2 separate regions of the Homo sapiens genome follow, and region 2 is linked to region 1. The links come from fine-mapping of genetic effects on gene expression. A gene starts in region 1. The other region holds a variant in brackets. All regions are shown on one strand. Distances are between the middles of the regions.

What was found.
Region 2: its variant is fine-mapped to the expression of PRKCSH in whole blood (TOPMed, PIP 0.95).

What each region holds. Positions count from the first base shown.
Region 1 is chr19:11,431,296-11,439,799 of GRCh38, reverse strand. It overlaps PRKCSH (PRKCSH beta subunit of glucosidase II), which reads right to left and starts at 4,165. Exons shown (of 18, transcript NM_001289104.2): 1 at 4,094-4,165; 2 at 3,604-3,759; 3 at 3,295-3,411; 4 at 1,829-1,924; 5 at 1,676-1,733. The coding sequence starts at 3,682. ODAD3 (outer dynein arm docking complex subunit 3) reads left to right here and starts at 4,679. Exons shown (of 13, transcript NM_145045.5): 1 at 4,679-5,027. The coding sequence starts at 4,784. It also overlaps the pseudogene LOC124904800. RefSeq lists enhancers at 3,608-3,827, 4,078-4,487, 4,061-4,560.
Region 2 is chr19:11,393,058-11,401,561 of GRCh38, reverse strand. It overlaps RGL3 (ral guanine nucleotide dissociation stimulator like 3), which reads left to right. Exons shown (of 19, transcript NM_001035223.4): 14 at 1,265-1,360; 15 at 1,454-1,522; 16 at 1,611-1,707; 17 at 3,965-4,117; 18 at 4,204-4,318; 19 at 7,042-7,502. The coding sequence ends at 7,160. Among named protein-coding and RNA genes, the nearest start is that of EPOR, 13 kb to the right of the region's middle. The variant A/G (reference allele first, on the strand shown) is at 3,733.

The sequences.
Region 1 (8,504 bases):
AAAATACAAATTTTAGCCGGGTGTGGTGGTGGATGCCTGTAGTCCCAGCTACTCAGGAGGCTAAGGCAGAAGAATCGCTTGAACCCGGGAGGCAGAGGTTAGAGTGAGCCGAGATCGCGCCACTGCACTCCATCCAGCCTGGGCAACAGAGTGAGACTCTGTCTCACAAAAAAAAAAAAAAAAAAAAAAAAAAAGAAAAGAAAAATTTTTCTGAGACGGGTCTCACTGTGTTGCCCAGGCTGGTCTCAAACTCCTGGGTTAAGGTGATCCTCTCGCCTTAGCCTCCCAAAGTGCTGGGATTACAGGTGTGAGCCACATGCCCAACCAGTAATTTTTTAAATTATAATTTCCAATTTTTATTTTTACTTTTTAATTTTTTTTTTTTACTTTTTATAGAGATAGGGTATCGCTATTTTGCCCAGGCTGGTCTCAAACTCCTGGGCTCAAGCAGTCTTCCTGCCTCAGCCTCCCAAAATGCTGGGATTACAGGCAGGAGCCACCATGAGCCGGGTCTTATTTTTTCATATCAGACAGGTAATGCGCCAAGGTCGCAACAAGGTTTAAGGGAGGCGTATCTCTCACACGTGCATAAAAACCTAATCATCGTGGCCAAGCGCGGCGGCTTAGCACTTTGGGAGGCTGAGGCGAGCAGATCACCTGAGGTCAGGCGTTCGAGGCCAGCCTGGCCAACATAGTGAAACCATCTCTACCAAAAATACAAAAGTTAGCCAGGCGTGGTGGGGGTACGCCTGTATTCCCAGCTACTTGGGAGGCTGAGGTGTGAGAATTGCTTGAACCCGAAGGGCAGAGGTTGCAGTGAGCCAAGATCACGCCACTGCACTCCAGCCTGGGCGACAGAGTGAGACCCTGTCTCAAAAAATATAAATAAATAAAAATAAATCATCATGCCTATGAACTACAAAAGGATCAGCTGGCAGGAATTGAGAACAGCTGTTCCCCTAGATGCCACAATCCCCACCCCTCCGTATTGCCTCATACTTGGCCTCCTTCTGTTGTATGCTTTTTTTTTTTTTGCTTTTTTTTTGAGACGGAGTCTCACTCTGTTGCCCAGGCTGGATTGCAGTGGTGCGATCTCGGCTCACTGCAACCTCTGCCTCCCGTGTTCACGCCACTCACCTGCCTCAGCCCACCGAGTAGCTGGGACTACAGGCGCCCGCCACCACACCCAGCTAATTTTTTGTATTTTTAGTGAGACGGAGTTTCACCATGTCAGCCAGGATGGTCTCGATCTCCTGACCTCGTGATCCGCCTGCCTCAGCCTCCCAAAGTGCTGGGATTACAGGTGTGAGCCACCGCGCCTGGCCTCCTTCCGTTGTATACTTTACCTGCCTGTGGGTGTTTCGGTTTTCAGGACCTGCTGCAGAGCGTGACAATGGAAAGTTTAGAGTCCAAGTGCCGGCTCTGCTATCTCCTATGTGACCCTGGGGAAGTCATTTCCCTTTCTAAACTTGAGTTCCCCCATCTGTTGAATCGGGAAACAATCCTACCTGCTTCCAGACTAGAGGGAAAGGTGGGGATTAGGATTCACAAGGCACCTGGCACAGACAGAGAACCCGATACAGAAAAGCAGAAGAGAGAGTGGGCCCGATTCACTGGGTGGAGCCAGGCAAAGTCTTGGGGTGGGGTGATGGGAGGGGTACTGTCACCCACGTACTTGCAGGTGTTCTCACAGATGACGCCGCTGTTGTACTCGTCTGTTCCATCGCAGCAGTCTGTGGCAGAGGCAGAAGCCAAGATCAGACCTGGCAGTGCCTCCTCCCTCCCTCCCTCTACCACCTTTCCAGAATCCTGGTGCATCTTCACTTACCACAAACACCATCGTTGACCCGGTTGGAGGGGATATACAGGGGCTTATAGCCAGTGTTGGTGCAGTGGAAGCTGCCATTAGGACAGGCAGCCGTGCCTGTGAGGAAGAAGGGAGGGAAGGTTTTCGGAGTCAGCTCAGGGACAGACATGTCCCATCCATCCACAGATAAGAGCCCCTGACCCACACTGCACACAGCACAAGAAAGGAAAGGAAACCAAAGGAAGGAAAGAGTTGTACACTGCACAGCCAGGGCTCGAAATAAAGCTCTCCAGTGCCGCCTCCTGCCTCTTCTCACTGAGGCCCTTCAAAACAGGGTCTCCACCTGGCACGGGGGCTCACACCTGTAATCCCAGCACTTTGGGAGGCCGAGGCGGGTGGGTCACCTGAGGTGATGAGTTTGAGACCAGCCTGGCCAACACGATGAAACTCCATCTCTACTAAAAATACGAAAAATTAGCCGGATGTGGTGGCATGTGCCTGTAATCCCAGCTACTCAGGAGGCTGAGGCAGGAGAATCGCTTGAACCCGGGAGGTGGAGACTGCAGTGAGCCAAGATCATGCCACTGCACTCCAGCCTGGGCGATAAGAGTGAAACTCCATCTCAAAAAAAAAAATTAAAAACAAAACAAAACAAGGCCAGGTACGGTGGCTCACGCCTGTAATCCCAACACTTTGGGAGGCCGAGGCGGGTGGATCACAAGGTGACGAGATCGAGACCATCCTGGCTAACACAGTGAAACCCTGTATCTACTAAAAATACAAAAAAAAACTAGCTGGGCGTGGTGGTGGGTGCCTGTAGTCCCAGCTACTCAGGAGGCTGAGGCAGGAGAACGGTGTGAACCCGGGAGGCGGAGCTTGCAGTGAGCCGAGATGGCGCCACTGCACTCCAGCCTGGGAAACAGAGCAAGACTCCGTCTCAAAACAAAAACAAAACCAAAGACACGGTCTCATCCAGGCACGGTGGCTCACACCTGTAACCCCAGCACTTTGGGAGGCCAAGGCAGGAGGATGACTTGAGCCCAAGAGTTCCAGGCTGCAGTGAGCTACGATCATGCCACTGTACTCCAGCCTCAGCAACAAAGCAAGACCCTGTCTCTTCAAAACACACAAAAACAAAAAGCCAGGGTCTCCCTTCACCTCTGTCTCCTGCTGGATTGCTCTTGGCCCCACCCTGTCTCCCACTTCTAGGGGTTTGCCCGTGTTGACCCCTCCATCTGCAGCACCTTCGGGATTCAACTGAAACCTCACCTCCTTGGAGGAGCCTTCTCTGACCCCGAGGCTTGGGAGGAGGACGACTCTGGGCTCCTCCAGCTGCCCGGGGCCATAACACTGACCACTGACTTCTGAGCTTGTTTCTGCCCACTCAAAGGGGAGCCAGCAGAGGTAGTATCTTGGTCACACAGACAGGGCCTGGCACTGAGCAGTGTTCAATAAACATCTGATGGATGAACAGAGAAAAGGCTCACCTGGCTCGTCAGAGCCATCTTTGCAGTCGCAATAGTCATCGTTGACCTGATCAAATGGGATGGTGGCCGAACCGTCCAGGCAGGTGAAAGGCTTGGACTCATCGTAGAAGTGATGATCTGCGGGGTACAGGAAGCTCAGCCCAGGGCAGGTAAGCGCCTTCTCCACCAAATACCACCTCTGTCCTCCCATCCCCACCAGCGGAGCACTACCGGGAAACTGAGTCAAAAGGCTGTAAATGCCTATCCCTAAGGCCCAATGTTGGCCCCTCCCACCTCCAGCCTGGCGGGAGGGTGAACAGGAGGACTCACTGGTGAGGGAGACGCCCCGGGGCCTCTTGACCTCCACGGCCCAGCACATGGGTAGCAGCAGCAGCAGCGGCAACAGCATCTCACCAGACGCTCTGAGGCCCGAAACGGGTTCTGTGGGAGGAAGCCTACAGCGGGGAGATGCGCTGTGTCTTCACGCTGCAGGAAGAAAGCGGATCCCGGTCAGTGGGAGAGGGCTACTTCCAGCCAATTGGATTCCTCCATCGCTTCCAGGCAATGAGGCCTCACTTTGTTTCCGATATGGGGGCGAGGGGCAGCGATCTCCCCAATCCTGGCCAGTCTCACTTTGCTCAAATCAATGGCGAGGATCTCAAGATCTCAAAACCTCCGCTCCCTGTGCCCAATTGTGACCCAATTCCCGCCAACAGACCAAAGGGATTAACAGCCTCCGCCGTCCACACCCACACATGCACCCTCCGGTTGCCCCCTGTAAGAAACTGAGGTGCCCTCCCACCCGCTCGTTCACACCTACACGAGGCCGGAGCAAAGGTCAGTATCCACCGCACCCCTCTTGTCCAGCAGCCGCGGTTCCTGCTGCAGAAAGAAAGCGGAAATTTCTGGACCCCGTCACTTCCGGTCGTACGTTCCGCACCGGGAACGGAGACTCAGGGTCGCCATGTTGGGAGAGGCAGGAGTGGGGGCGGTGCCAGAGCCGAGACGGCCATCTTGGGCAGGACTGTGAAACCTTAGAGAGGATAGTTCTGAGGGCTAGCTCTTAATGGCGGCGCAGCGTACCTCCATCTTGGGAGTGGCGGCTTCTCAAGCCGGAAAGAAAGTTCCTGAAAAATGCCCGCGAACCCCCAGGGGCGGGATAAGGTTGGGGGAGGTAGGGAAACGGAATGAGCACGTGACCCCAAAGTGTCCAGACCCTCCGTCCTGCGGCGCGGCTCTACCCCGCCCACTGTTGGGACCGCCCCTCTATGCAGCCTCAGCCAATGAGAACGCAGTGTCAGCCACGGAACGCGGGTGATCTCCATGGAAACAGTGGAGAGAGACGGGGAGGCGGTTACCTGGCAACCGAGAGATGCGGAGCGCAACCACCTAGCGGTCGGAAAGTGCATTTTTCAGAGCCCTAGGAATCCGAGCTGACGGATCCCTGACAGGGGCGACTGACTCCTAGTTATCCCCCTAACCCCTAGGGGCCTTCAGCCCCAACCCCATCATGACATCTCCTCTGTGCAGGGCGGCCTCCGCCAACGCCCTGCCTCCTCAGGACCAGGCTTCGACGCCCTCTTCCAGGGTCAAGGGCAGGGAGGCTTCGGGCAAACCCAGCCACCTCCGAGGCAAGGGCACAGCCCAGGCGTGGACCCCAGGCCGTTCCAAGGGAGGATCCTTCCACAGAGGTGCAGGGAAGCCCTCTGTGCACTCTCAGGTGGCTGAGTTACATAAAAAGATACAACTGTTAGGTAAGATGGCTCCAGAGGGTACAGAGGGTCAGGGGTCAACAGTGCCCATCCAATCTTCATGGTGTGACAAAGGTATTTCTCCAGCATGAGTCTAGGTAAACCGTTTCTGGGCAAAAACTCATACTTAGTTCATGTTTTTCCTTCTCTGTCTCTTAAAACTTCTCATGGGTTCAGAACCGACTGAACTGTACTTCATACTTTCTTGTAATTTATTTTCTCTATTTTTTTTTTTTTTTTTGGCAGAATCTCACTCTGTTGCCAGGTGGGAGTGCAGTGGAACGATTTCGGCTCACTGCAACCTCCGCCTCCCGGGTTCAAGCGATTCTCCTGCCTCAGCCTCTTGAGTAGCTGGGACTACAGGCACACGCCACCACGCCTAACTAATTTTTGTATTTTTAGTACAGAGGGATTTCACCATATTGGCCAGGGTGGTCTCAATCTCTTGACCTCCCAAACTGCTGGGATTACAGGCGTGAGCCCGCCTCGGCCTCCCAAACTGCTGGGATTACAGGCGTGAGCCACTGCACCCGCGTTTTTTTTTGTTTTGTTTTTTGTTTTTTGAGACAGGGTCTTGCTCTGTCGCCTAGGCTGGAGAGCAGTGGCATGATCTCGGCTCACTGCAACCTCTGCCTCCAAGGTTCAAGCGATTCTCGAGCCTCAGCCTCCTGACTAGCTGGGACTATAGGTGCGTGCCACCACACCTAATTTTTATATTTTTAGTAGAGACTGGGTTTCACCATGTTGGCCAGGCTGGTCTCGAACTCCTGATCTCAAGTGATCCACGGCCTTGGCTCCCAAAGTGCTGGGATTACATGTGTGAGCCACCGCGCCCAGCCTTCTTTCTTTCTGACAGGGTCTTGCTCTGCTGTTGAGGCTGGAGTGTAGTGGTTGGATAACAGTTCACTGCAGACTTGACCTCCTAGGCTCAAGCGATCCTTCCACCTCAGCCTCCTGAGTAGCTGGGACTACAGGCATACACCACTGTGCTTGGCTAATTTTCTTACTTTTTGTAGAGATGGGGTCTCACTATGCTGCCCAGGCTGGTCTCAAACTCCTGGGCTCAAGCAATCCTTCCTCCTCAGCCTCCCAAAGTGCTGGGGTTACAGGCATGGGCCGCTGCACCTGGCCTGAGCATAGATTTTTAGAGCCAGATTTTCTGGGTTGGAATCCTGGCTCTGCATAATAGTTGTCCAACCTTGGGGGACTAAGAGTAACCTAATTGTTCTCAGTTTCTCGATGTGTGAAATGGGGATAGTAACAGTACAACATAGGTACCTGAAATGTGTAAAGTGCTTAGAACAGTGCCTGGCACATAGCAAAGTACCATAAGGTGTAAACCAGTGGTTCTTGTTGGAAAAGGGTTGGTTTGCCCCACAGGGGCCATTTGGCAATGTCCTAAGACATTGAGACCAGCATGGCCAACACGGTGAAACGCTGTCTCTACTAAAAATACAAAAAATTAGCCGGGCATGGTGGCATGGATGTCTGTTGTGGGTGTGTGTCTGCCACTGGCATCTAGTGGGCAGAGTTGAAGATGCTGCCCAACATTCTGCAAAACACAGGAGAGCACCCCACGGCAAATAATTATTCGGCCCAGTTGTTGGTCATCCTGAGGTTGCAGAATCCTTGTGTGTAAGCTATTATTATTGCTTTTGTTGATATTATTAAGAGGTAATCATGGCTGGGCGAGGTGGCTCACACCTGTAATCCCAGCACTTTGGGAGGCTGAGGTGGGCGGATCATTTGAGGTCAGGAGTTTGAGACCAGCCTGGCCAACATAGTGAAACCCCATCTCTACTAAAAGTACAAAAATTAGCCGGGCATGGTGGCGCACGCCTGTAATCCCAGCTACTTGGAAGGCTGAGGCAGGAGAGGGGCTTGAACCCAGGAGGTGGAGGTTGCGGTGAGCCAGGATTGCGCCACTGCACTCCAGCCTGGGTGACAGAGTGAGATTCCGTCTTAAAAAAAAAAAAGGGTAATCTTGCATGGTTGCTTGTGACCTTAAGCAGTTTAATCAGCCCAAGCCTCTGTCTTGTCATCTGTGCAAGGGGTATGATATGCGTATGCCATGGATACCTATTGGCACGTGATATATGGCATTCGGAAACCTCTTAGTCCAGCATCCAACACATAATAAATGCTCACAGTGAAGTACAGTTGACCGTTGAACACCATGTGTTCACATATATCATTCATCCTTTCAAGTTAAAAAAAATTGAGATGGGCAGGCCGGGCACAGTGGTTCATACCTGTAATCCCAGCACTTTGGGAGGCTGAGGCAGGAGGATTGCTAGAGGCCAGGAGTTCGAGACCAGCCTGGGCAACATAGTGAGATCCTTGACTCTACAAAAAATAAAGTAGCCAGATGTGGTGGCACATGCCTCTAGTCCTAGCTACTTGGGAGGCTGAGGCAGGAGGACTGCTTGAGCTCAGGAGGTTGAGGCTTCAGTGAGCAGTGATAGCACCACTGCACTTCATTCTGGGTGACAGAGCAAGACCCAGTCCCAAAAAAGAAAAGAAAAGAAAATACAACAGTCCTGGAATGCAAAACCTGAGTATACAGAGGGACAACTGTTTGTATCTGCAGGTTCCACAGGGCTGACTGTGGGACTTGAGTATGGAAGGATTTTGGGGTTTTTTGTTTTGTTTTGTTTTGTTTTTTGAGACAGAGTCTTGCTCTGTTGCCCAGGCTGGAGTGCAGTGGCAGGATCTCAGCTCAATGCAACCTCCACCTCCAGAGGTCAAGTAATTATTGTGCCTCAGCCTCCTGTAGCTGGGATTACAGGCACCCACCATCATGCCCGGCTAATTTTTTTTTTTTTTTTTTTTTGAGGCAGAGTCTCGCTCTGTCACCCAGGCTGGAGTGCAGTGGTGCGATCTCGGCTCACTGCAAGCTCTGCCTCCCAGGTTCACACCATTCTCCTGCCTCAGTCCCCTGAGTAGCTGGGACTACAGGTGCCTGCCACCATGCACGGCTAATTTTTTTTTTTTTTTGTATTTTTAGTAGAGGCGGGATTTCACTATGTTAGCCAGGATGGTCTCGATCTCCTGACCTCGTGATCCGCTCACTTTGGCCTCCCAAAGTGCTGGGATTATGGACGTGAGCCACCGTGCCCGGCCATGCCCAGCTAATTTTTGTATTTTTGTAGAGATGGGGTTTCACCATGTTGGCCAGGCTGATCTTGAACTCTTGACCTCAGGTGATCCGCCCGCCTCTACCTCCCAAAGTGCAAGGATTACAGGAACGAGCCATCATGCTCAGCCTCACACCTGGCTAATTTTTGTATTTTTAGTAGAGATGCGGTTTTACCATGTTGGCCAGGCTGGTCAACGACTGCATTCTTATAATATTAAGTTGATGAGCCTGGCACAGTGGCTCACACCTATAATCCTAGGACTTTAGGGGGCCTAGAACTTTGGGAACACCTGAGGTCAGGAGTTCGAGACCAGCCTGACCAACATGGAGAAACCCCATGT
Region 2 (8,504 bases), 38 kb after region 1:
TAGCCAGGTGTAGTGGCAGGCGCCTGTAGTCCCAGCTACTTGGGAGGCTGAGGCAGGAGAATGGCGTGAACCCGGGAGGCAGAGCTTGCAGGGAGCCGAGATGGTGCCACTGCACTCCAGCCTGGGCAACAGAGCGAGACTCCGTCTCAAAAAAAAAAAAAAAAAATTAGCTGAATGTGGTGTTGAGTGCCGTTGGTCCCAACTACTTGGGAGGCTGAGGTGGGAGGATTGCTGGAGCCTGGGAGGCAGAGGTTGGAGTGAGCCAAAATCACGCCACTGCAGTTCCAGTCTAGGTGACAGAGTGAGACCCTGTCTCAAAAAAAAAAAAAAAAAAATAGTCACAATTGACCTCTGACCTCAATTTCAACCCCATCTGATTTTCTGACCTCAACTTTAGCATTCAGCTGGCCATTCAACTCAACTGTCCCATCTGTTGACTTCCCCATCTTTGGTCCTATCTGACCCATGACCTTATTCATGACCCCTCATCTGACTCTCTGACCCCAACCCTTGACCCTCAGTTCTGAGTAACTGACTCCAACTTTTATGTTTGACTGTCCAGCTTGACTATGACAACTGTGTCCTTTCTTTCTATATAACTGTGACCCTAACCATTGACCCCAATGGTGACCTGACCCCAGTCTGACCCTGACTTTATTTTATTTATTTATTTATTTATTTATTTATTTATTTATTTATTTATTTTTGAGACAGAGTCTGGCTCTGTTTCCCAGGCTGGAGTGCAGTGGAGTGATCTCGGCTCACTGTAGCCCCCGCCTCCCAGGTTCAAGCAATTCTACTGCCTCAGCCTCCCCGGTAGCCGCAATTACAGGCGCGAGCTACCACACCTGGCTAATTTTTTTTGTATTTTTAGTAGAGACGGGGTTTCACTATATTGGCCAGGCTGGTTTCGAACTCTTGACCCGAAGCAATCCTCTCGCCTCAGCCTCCCAAAGTGCTAGGATTACAGGCGTGAGCCACTGCACCCAGTCCTGACCCTGACTTTAATCCTGACCCAATTTGATTCCTTAGTGCCACCCTGTGAATCTCTTTGTGACCTCCTGACCAGCCATCCTGTCCCATCTCTGATAAGACCTTGATGCTCAATGACCCTCATTTACCACCCTGACCCTGGCATGTGGGGTGCCACCTCTGGCTGCTCCCCCTTACACCCCAAACCCACCTCCCAACTGATTCCAACTCTTATCTCTCCATCCCCTGTATTTCCTGCCCCCACCACCTCATCCACATATTGACCCCTCAGCTACCGGCTCTCCCGGGTCATTGAGCCACCAGCTGCCTCCTGCCCCAGCTCCCCACGCATCCGACGGCGGATCAGCCTCACCAAGCGTCTCAGTGCGTGAGTCTCGGGGTGTGTGTAGGGGCGGTGATGTGGGCAGATATCAGCAAGGGCTGCTCCTGCCTTAGCCTCATCCCCTGTCCCCATCCTTAGGAAGCTTGCCCGAGAGAAAAGCTCATCACCTAGTGGGAGTCCCGGGGACCCCTCATCCCCCACCTCCAGGTGAGCATTCTGCTTGGTGATGGGACTGGGGATCATGGGATCAGGAGTCAGCACAGCCACCCCACCTCAGCCTCTGCATCTCCCCCAGTGTGTCCCCAGGGTCACCCCCCTCAAGTCCTAGAAGCAGAGATGCTCCTGCTGGCAGTCCCCCGGCCTCTCCAGGGCCCCAGGGCCCCAGCACCAAGGTACCAAGACGGCTTGTGTGTGCATGCGGGCCTGCGGGCACCCAGGCTCTGTGTGTGTGCACGTGTGTGTGCATGCACATGTGTACACACAGGATTGTGGGGCCAGGAGTGTATACAGGAGGCACACTGAGCGCCCGGGGTATCCATCCAGGGGATTGCATGCATCTGCACGGCCCTGTTTGGGTGATCACTCATAAATCCGACTCGTGCTCAGATTTGGACCTGTGTAACTGCTTGCCCATGGGTCATCTAGGGTGCAATCACATCACACCCCTTTTTATTTGAAACAGGGTCTTCTTGCTCTGTCACCCAGGCTGAAGTGCAGCGGTGCAATCTCAGCTCACCGCAACTTCCACCCCTCCCCCAGGCTCAAGCAATCCTTCCACCTCAGCCTCCCAAGTAGCTAGGACCACAGGTGTGCACCACCATGCCCTGCTATTTTTTTTATTTAGTAGAGATGAGGTTTCGCCATGTTGCCCAGGTGGGTTTCGAACTCCTGAGCTCAAACAATGCACTCACCTCGGCCTCCCAAAGTGCTGGGATTACAGGTGTGAGCCACCGCACCCAGCCTACACTTTTTTGAGGACATGTATGTCCCTAAGAATCTGCATACCATGGCAGACACGGTGGCTATTGCCTGTGATCCCGGCACTTTGGGAAGCCAAAGTGGGAGGATTGCTTGAGGCCGGGAGTTCAAGACCAGCCTGGGCAACATAGTGAGACCCTATTTCTATTAAAAGTCAAAAAAATTAGCTGGGTGTAGTCCCAGCTACTCAGCAGGCTGAGGTGGAAGGATCGCTTGAGTTTGAGGCTGCAGTGAGCTACGATCATGCCACGGCACTCTAGCCTGCATGATAGAGCGAGATCCTGTTTATGAAGAAAAAGAGACTGGGCACGGTGGCTCACGCCTGTAATCCCAGCACTCTGGGAGGCCGAGGTGGGCGGATCACGAGGTCAAGAGATCGAGACCATCCTGGCCAACGTGGTGAAACCCTGTCTCTACTGAAAATAGAAAAATTAGCTGGGTATGGTCGCGCACACCTGTAGTCCCAGCTACTTGGGAGGCTGAGGCAGGAGAATCACTTGAACCCAGGAGACGGAGGTTGCAGTGAGCTGAGATGGTGCCACTGCACTCCATCCAGCCTGGTGACAGAGCGAGGCTCCCTCTAAAAGAAAAACAAAAAAAGAAAAGGAAATGAAGGAAATGAAGGCTGGGCATGGTAGCTCATGCCTGTAATCCCAGCACTTTGGGAGGCCGAGGCCAGTGGATCACTTGAGGCCAGGAATTTGAGACCAGCCTAGCCAACATGGTGAAACCCCGTCTCTACTAAAAATAAAAACATTAGCTGGGCATAGTGGCACAGGCCTGTAATCCCAGCTACTTGGGAGGGTGAGGCATGAGAATTGCTTGAACCTGGGAGGCAGAGGTTGCAGTGAGCTGAGATGGCACCACTGCATTCCAGCCTGGGTGACAGAGCAAGACTCTGTCTCAAAAAAAAAAGAAAAGAAAAAGAAAAGAATCTGTGTACCAGAAGAGGAAATGTGGGCCTGAGTATTCATGAGATCATGTGTGGGGTTGTTCATTGGCATGGGCTGTGGGTGTATAACCGCTGTCAGCATATGTATGTACACAGGATTTCTTGTGTATGAGCATGGGTTGTGTGTATATGGACACTGTTCATGTCTGTTTCTATAACAGGTAACCAAAGTCTGTATATGGTAGGGTGGTGTATATGCAGGCTTGTGAATGTACTCCAGTTGCATGTCCCAGGCTCTGCATGTGTAGGGGGTAGTAGTATGTTTTCTTGAGATTTTATTTTATTTTATTATTTATTTATTTATTTTTGAGATGGAGTCTTGCTCTGTCACGCAGGCTGGAGTGCAGTAGCGTGATCTTGGCTCACTGCAACCTCTGCCTCTCAAGTTCAAGTGATTCTCCTGCCTCGGCCTCCCAAGTAGCTGGGATTACAGGCATGCGCCACCAGGCCCTGCTAATTTTTGTATTTTTAGTAGAGACGGAGTTTC[A/G]CCACGTTGGCCAGGCTGGTCTTGAACTCCCGACCTCAAGTGATCCGCCCACCTCGGCCTCCCAAAATGCTGAGATTACAGGCATGAGCCACTGCGCCCAGCCAATGTTTTCTTGAGATTTTAAATGTGGGGCTATTGAATGCACCAGTGGTGGCTGGGGTGTTCGTGCTTTTCTAGCCCTCAGCATCTGCAGATGGGCCAAGCTGTAGCCTCCACCCCTTACTGCCTGCAGCTGCCCCTGAGCCTGGACCTGCCCAGCCCCCGGCCCTTCGCTTTGCCTCTGGGCAGCCCTCGAATCCCCCTCCCGGCGCAGCAGAGCTCGGAGGCCCGTGTCATCCGCGTCAGCATCGACAATGACCACGGGAACCTGTATCGAAGCATCTTGGTGAGGGGCTGGGCTGGGGGTCTGCTGGAGGCTGCCCTGCCCTTGGGGCCGGGGCCCTCACCTCACCTCCCGCCCCTCTCTTCCAGCTGACCAGTCAGGACAAAGCCCCCAGCGTGGTCCGGCGAGCCTTGCAGAAGCACAATGTGCCCCAGCCCTGGGCCTGTGACTATCAGCTCTTTCAAGTCCTTCCTGGGGACCGGGGTGAGCAGGGATGGGTTGGAGCTCAGGATAGGGGGCAGCGGGGAGGCGAGCAGACTGACCACGCCCAAGGATGGAGCCCAAGGTTACCCGGGTTCACAGGGCTGTGAGGTGCTTCAGGCAGAGAGTAGGGGTAAGATAATCAGTGGAGGTAAGAGGACATAAAATACCTGTAACCCAACGATGTAGGGTCATGAGATTGTCTTGGCTCAGTGTGAGAGAGAGGTACCAAAGGTCATCTTCCTAAAATTTAAAAGACAATAAGATTGTCCAGGGTCCGGCCAGGCGCAGTGGCTCATGTCTGTAATCCCAGCACTTTGGGAGGTCAAGCTGGGCGGATCACTTGAGGTCAGGAGTTTGAGACCAGGCTGACCAACGTGGTGAAACCCCGTCTCTACGAAACATACAAAAATTAGTCGGGTGTGGTGGCACACTCCTGTAGTCCCAGCTACTCAGGAGGCTGAGGCAGGAGAATAATTGCTTGAATCTGGGAGGCGGAGGTTGCAGTGAGCCGAGATCATACCACTGCACTTCAGCCTGGGCAGCAGAGCGAGACTCTGTTTAAAAAAAAAAAAAAAAAAAAAGACTGTCCACGGACAAGTGACAGAAGGGAGTGTTTCTGACCTTCAATTTGTAGGATGGGCTGGGCATGGTGGCTCACAACTGTAATCCCAGCACTTTGGGAGGTCAAGGTGGGTGGATTGTCTGAGCTCAGGAGTTTGAGACCAGCCTGGGCAACATGAGGAGACCCCATCTATACAAAAAATAGAGAAATTGGCTGGGTGCGGTGGCTCAACGCCTGTAATCCCGGCACTTTGGGAGGCCAAAGCGGGTGGATCACTTGAGGTCAGGAGTTCGAGACCAGCCTGGCCAACATGGTGAAGCCCCGTCTCTACTAAAAATACAAAAAAATTAGCTGGGCATGGTGGCACATGCCTGTAGTCTCAGCTACTCGGGAGGCTGAGGCAGAAGAATCGCTTGAACCCAGGAGGCGGAGGTTGCAGTGAGCCGAGATCGCACCACTGCACTCCAGCCTGGCGACTGAGCAAGACTCTGTCTCAAAAAAAAAAAAAAAAAAAAAAAAAAAATATATATATATATATATATATAGAGAGAGAGAGAGAGAGAGAGAGAGAGAGAGAGAGATTAGCTGAGCATGGTGGCATGTGCCTGTATTCCCAACTCCAACTACTGGGGAGGCTGAGGTGGGAGGATCACTTGAGCCTAGGAGGTGGAGGCTGCAGCGAGCTGAGATCACGCCACTGCACTCCAGCCTGGGTGACAGAGCAAGACCCTGTCTCAATTAAAAAAAAAAAAGGGGGCCGGGCATGGTGGCTCACGCCTGTAATCCCAGCACTTTGGGAGGCCGAGGCGGGTGGATCACGAAGTCAAGAGATCGAGACCATCCTGGCCAACATGGTGAAGCCTCGTCTCTACTAAAAATACAAAAAATTAGCCAGGCATGGTGGCAGGCGCCTATAGTCCCAGCTACTCAGGAGGCTGAGGCAGAAGAATCACTTGAACCCAGGAGGTGAAGGTTGCAGTGAGCCAAGATTGCGCCACTGCACTCCAGCCTGGCGACAGAGTGAGACTCCGTCTCAAAAAAAAAGAAAAAATAGATTGTCTAGGGTCGAGTGAGAGAAGGGAGTGTAGAAGTTTGTCTGATCTTAAGTTTGTAGCATCATGAGATTGTTCAGGCTCAACCTGATGGGATGGGAGACTAAAGGGCATCTGGGCTTAGATTTGTGAGAACTAAGTTTGTTCACCACTGGGACCCTGAAGTTATCTGAACTTGGGACGGGAGAGAGGCAAATGGATAGCCGCGGAAGCATGAGATTGTCCTGTCTGACAGGGAGAAGCAAGGGATTGAGCGTATTCACGCTGAAGTACATGGCATGAGGTTGGCTGGATATTAGGAAAGGATGCTTGTGGTTGTTCAGGTGTTGAGTGTGAGGCCACAAGCTCGTGCAGGCTGGAAGTGGGAAGTTATTCAAGTTCATGGTGACAGCAGCATGGGATTGGCTGGGAGTGGTTGTGGGGGAGGGGTAGGGTGAGCAGGAAGTTGTTTGGCGGGGGGTGGTCTAGGGTGGTCTAAGTTTGCCCAAACTTTTACTGCAGGTTGTCGGTTTTGTTTGTTTTTGTTTTTTTTTTTTTGAGATGGAGTCTCGTGCTGTTGCCCAGGCTGGAGTGCAATGGCAGGATCTCGGCTCACCGCAACATCCACCTCCTGGGTTCAAGAGATTCTCCTGCCTCAGCCTTCCGAGTAGCTGGGATTACAGGCATGTGCCACCATGCCTAGCTCATTTTTTTGGTATTTTTAGTAGAGACGGGGTTTCACCATGTTGGCCAGACTGGTCTCGAATTCCTGACCTCAAGTGATCCACCCACTTCGGCCTCCCAAAGCGCTGGGATTACAGGCACGAGGCATCGCGCCCGGCCAGTTTGCTCAAACTTTTACTGCAGGTTGCCTTGTCTCTATGGTGAGGGGGAGAATATTAGGAGGTTGCCCAGGCTTATGATAAGGGAAGGCATGAGGTGGTGCAAGTTTTCAAGTGAGAAGTCGTCCAGGTTCCCAGTGACAGCAGAATGAGCTTGGCTTGGCAGTAGCTGCAGAGGGACCCATGGCTGTTCAGGTTCGCGGGTGAGTGGCAGGAGGCTCCCGGGTCCTCTGTGGGGGTGACACAAGGTTGTGAGGGCCTATTACCACCATCTCCACTCCTGACCAGTGCTCCTGATTCCTGACAATGCCAACGTCTTCTATGCCATGAGTCCAGTCGCCCCCAGAGACTTCATGCTGCGGCGGAAAGAGGGGACCCGGAACACTCTGTCTGTCTCCCCAAGCTGAGGCAGCCCTGTCCTCTCCACAAGACACAAGTCCCACAGGCAAGCTTGCGACTCTTCTCCTGGAAAGCTGCCATCCCCCAGTAGAGGCCACTGTGCTGTGTATCCCAGGACCACCACCCAACTGTAGCCCATTGGACCCCATCTCTTTTTCTGACTCTGTTGGTACTAGATCCATATTCCAAAGACATCAGCCCATGGGTGGCTGGTGGAGAGCTCAATCCCATAAATGTAGAAAGAGGTGGGGCATGGATACGTCAAATCCCTCCCCAGAGAAATCTTATAAATGTTAGAGACGCATCAGAAGTGACAGATGCGGATGAAAATAGTGACCAGAGTTATGAAACAGGTGTCAGTCTTGTTTATTTTGCGCCTGTGTGCCATGTTCACCCTTTATCAAGATAAAGGAAAACAGCTACCACACACACACCCACACACACACACACAAACACACAGAGAGAGAGAAACCTAAGAGCCAAGACCAGCCCGGGCAACATAACGAGATCCTGTCTCTACAAAAAATACAAAAATTTGGCTGGGCGTGGTGACTCACGCCTGTAATCCCAGCGTTTTGGGAGGCCAAGGCAGGCAGATCGCCTGAGGTCAGGAGTTCGAGACCAGCCTGGCCGACATGGCAAAACCCCATCTTCTAAAAGTACAAAAAATTAGCCGGGCGTGGTGTCATGCACCTGTAATCCCAGCTACTGGGGAGGCTGAGGCAGGAGAATTGCTTGAACCCGGAAGGTGGAGGTTGCAGTGAGTGGAAATCACACCACTGTACTCCAGCCTGGGTGACAGAGCAAGACCCTATCTCAAAAACAAACAAACAAACAAATGAACAAACAAAAAATTTTCTGAGTGTGGTGATATGAGACTGTAATCCTACCTACTTGGGAGGCTGAGCTGGGAGAATCACCAGAGCCCTGGGAGGTTGAAGCTGCAGTGAGCAGTGACTGGGCCCCTGCACTCCAACCTGGAGGACAGAGGGAGATCCTGTCTCAAAAACAAAAAAACTAAGAGCCCTAAGAAAGGTGTTGAGTCGGGTATGACACTCAACCCAGATGCCAGAGAGGATCCTGTCTGGCCGGACACAGTGGCTCAGGAGGGTAATCCCAGTACTTTGGGAGGCTGAGGTAAGAGGATTGCTTAAGTTCAGGAGTCCGAGAGCAGCCTGGGCAATACAGTGAGATCACATCTCACTAAATAAATAAATAAAGGATCCTATCACACAAAGAGGGTTTAGGACTTCCTTCCCCAACATTTTTGGGGTGATATGCCTCTTTTCTACTGTATATATGGGAGAGTGACTAACTGAAATTCCATCAGAATTAGAAACAAATAGCATCAT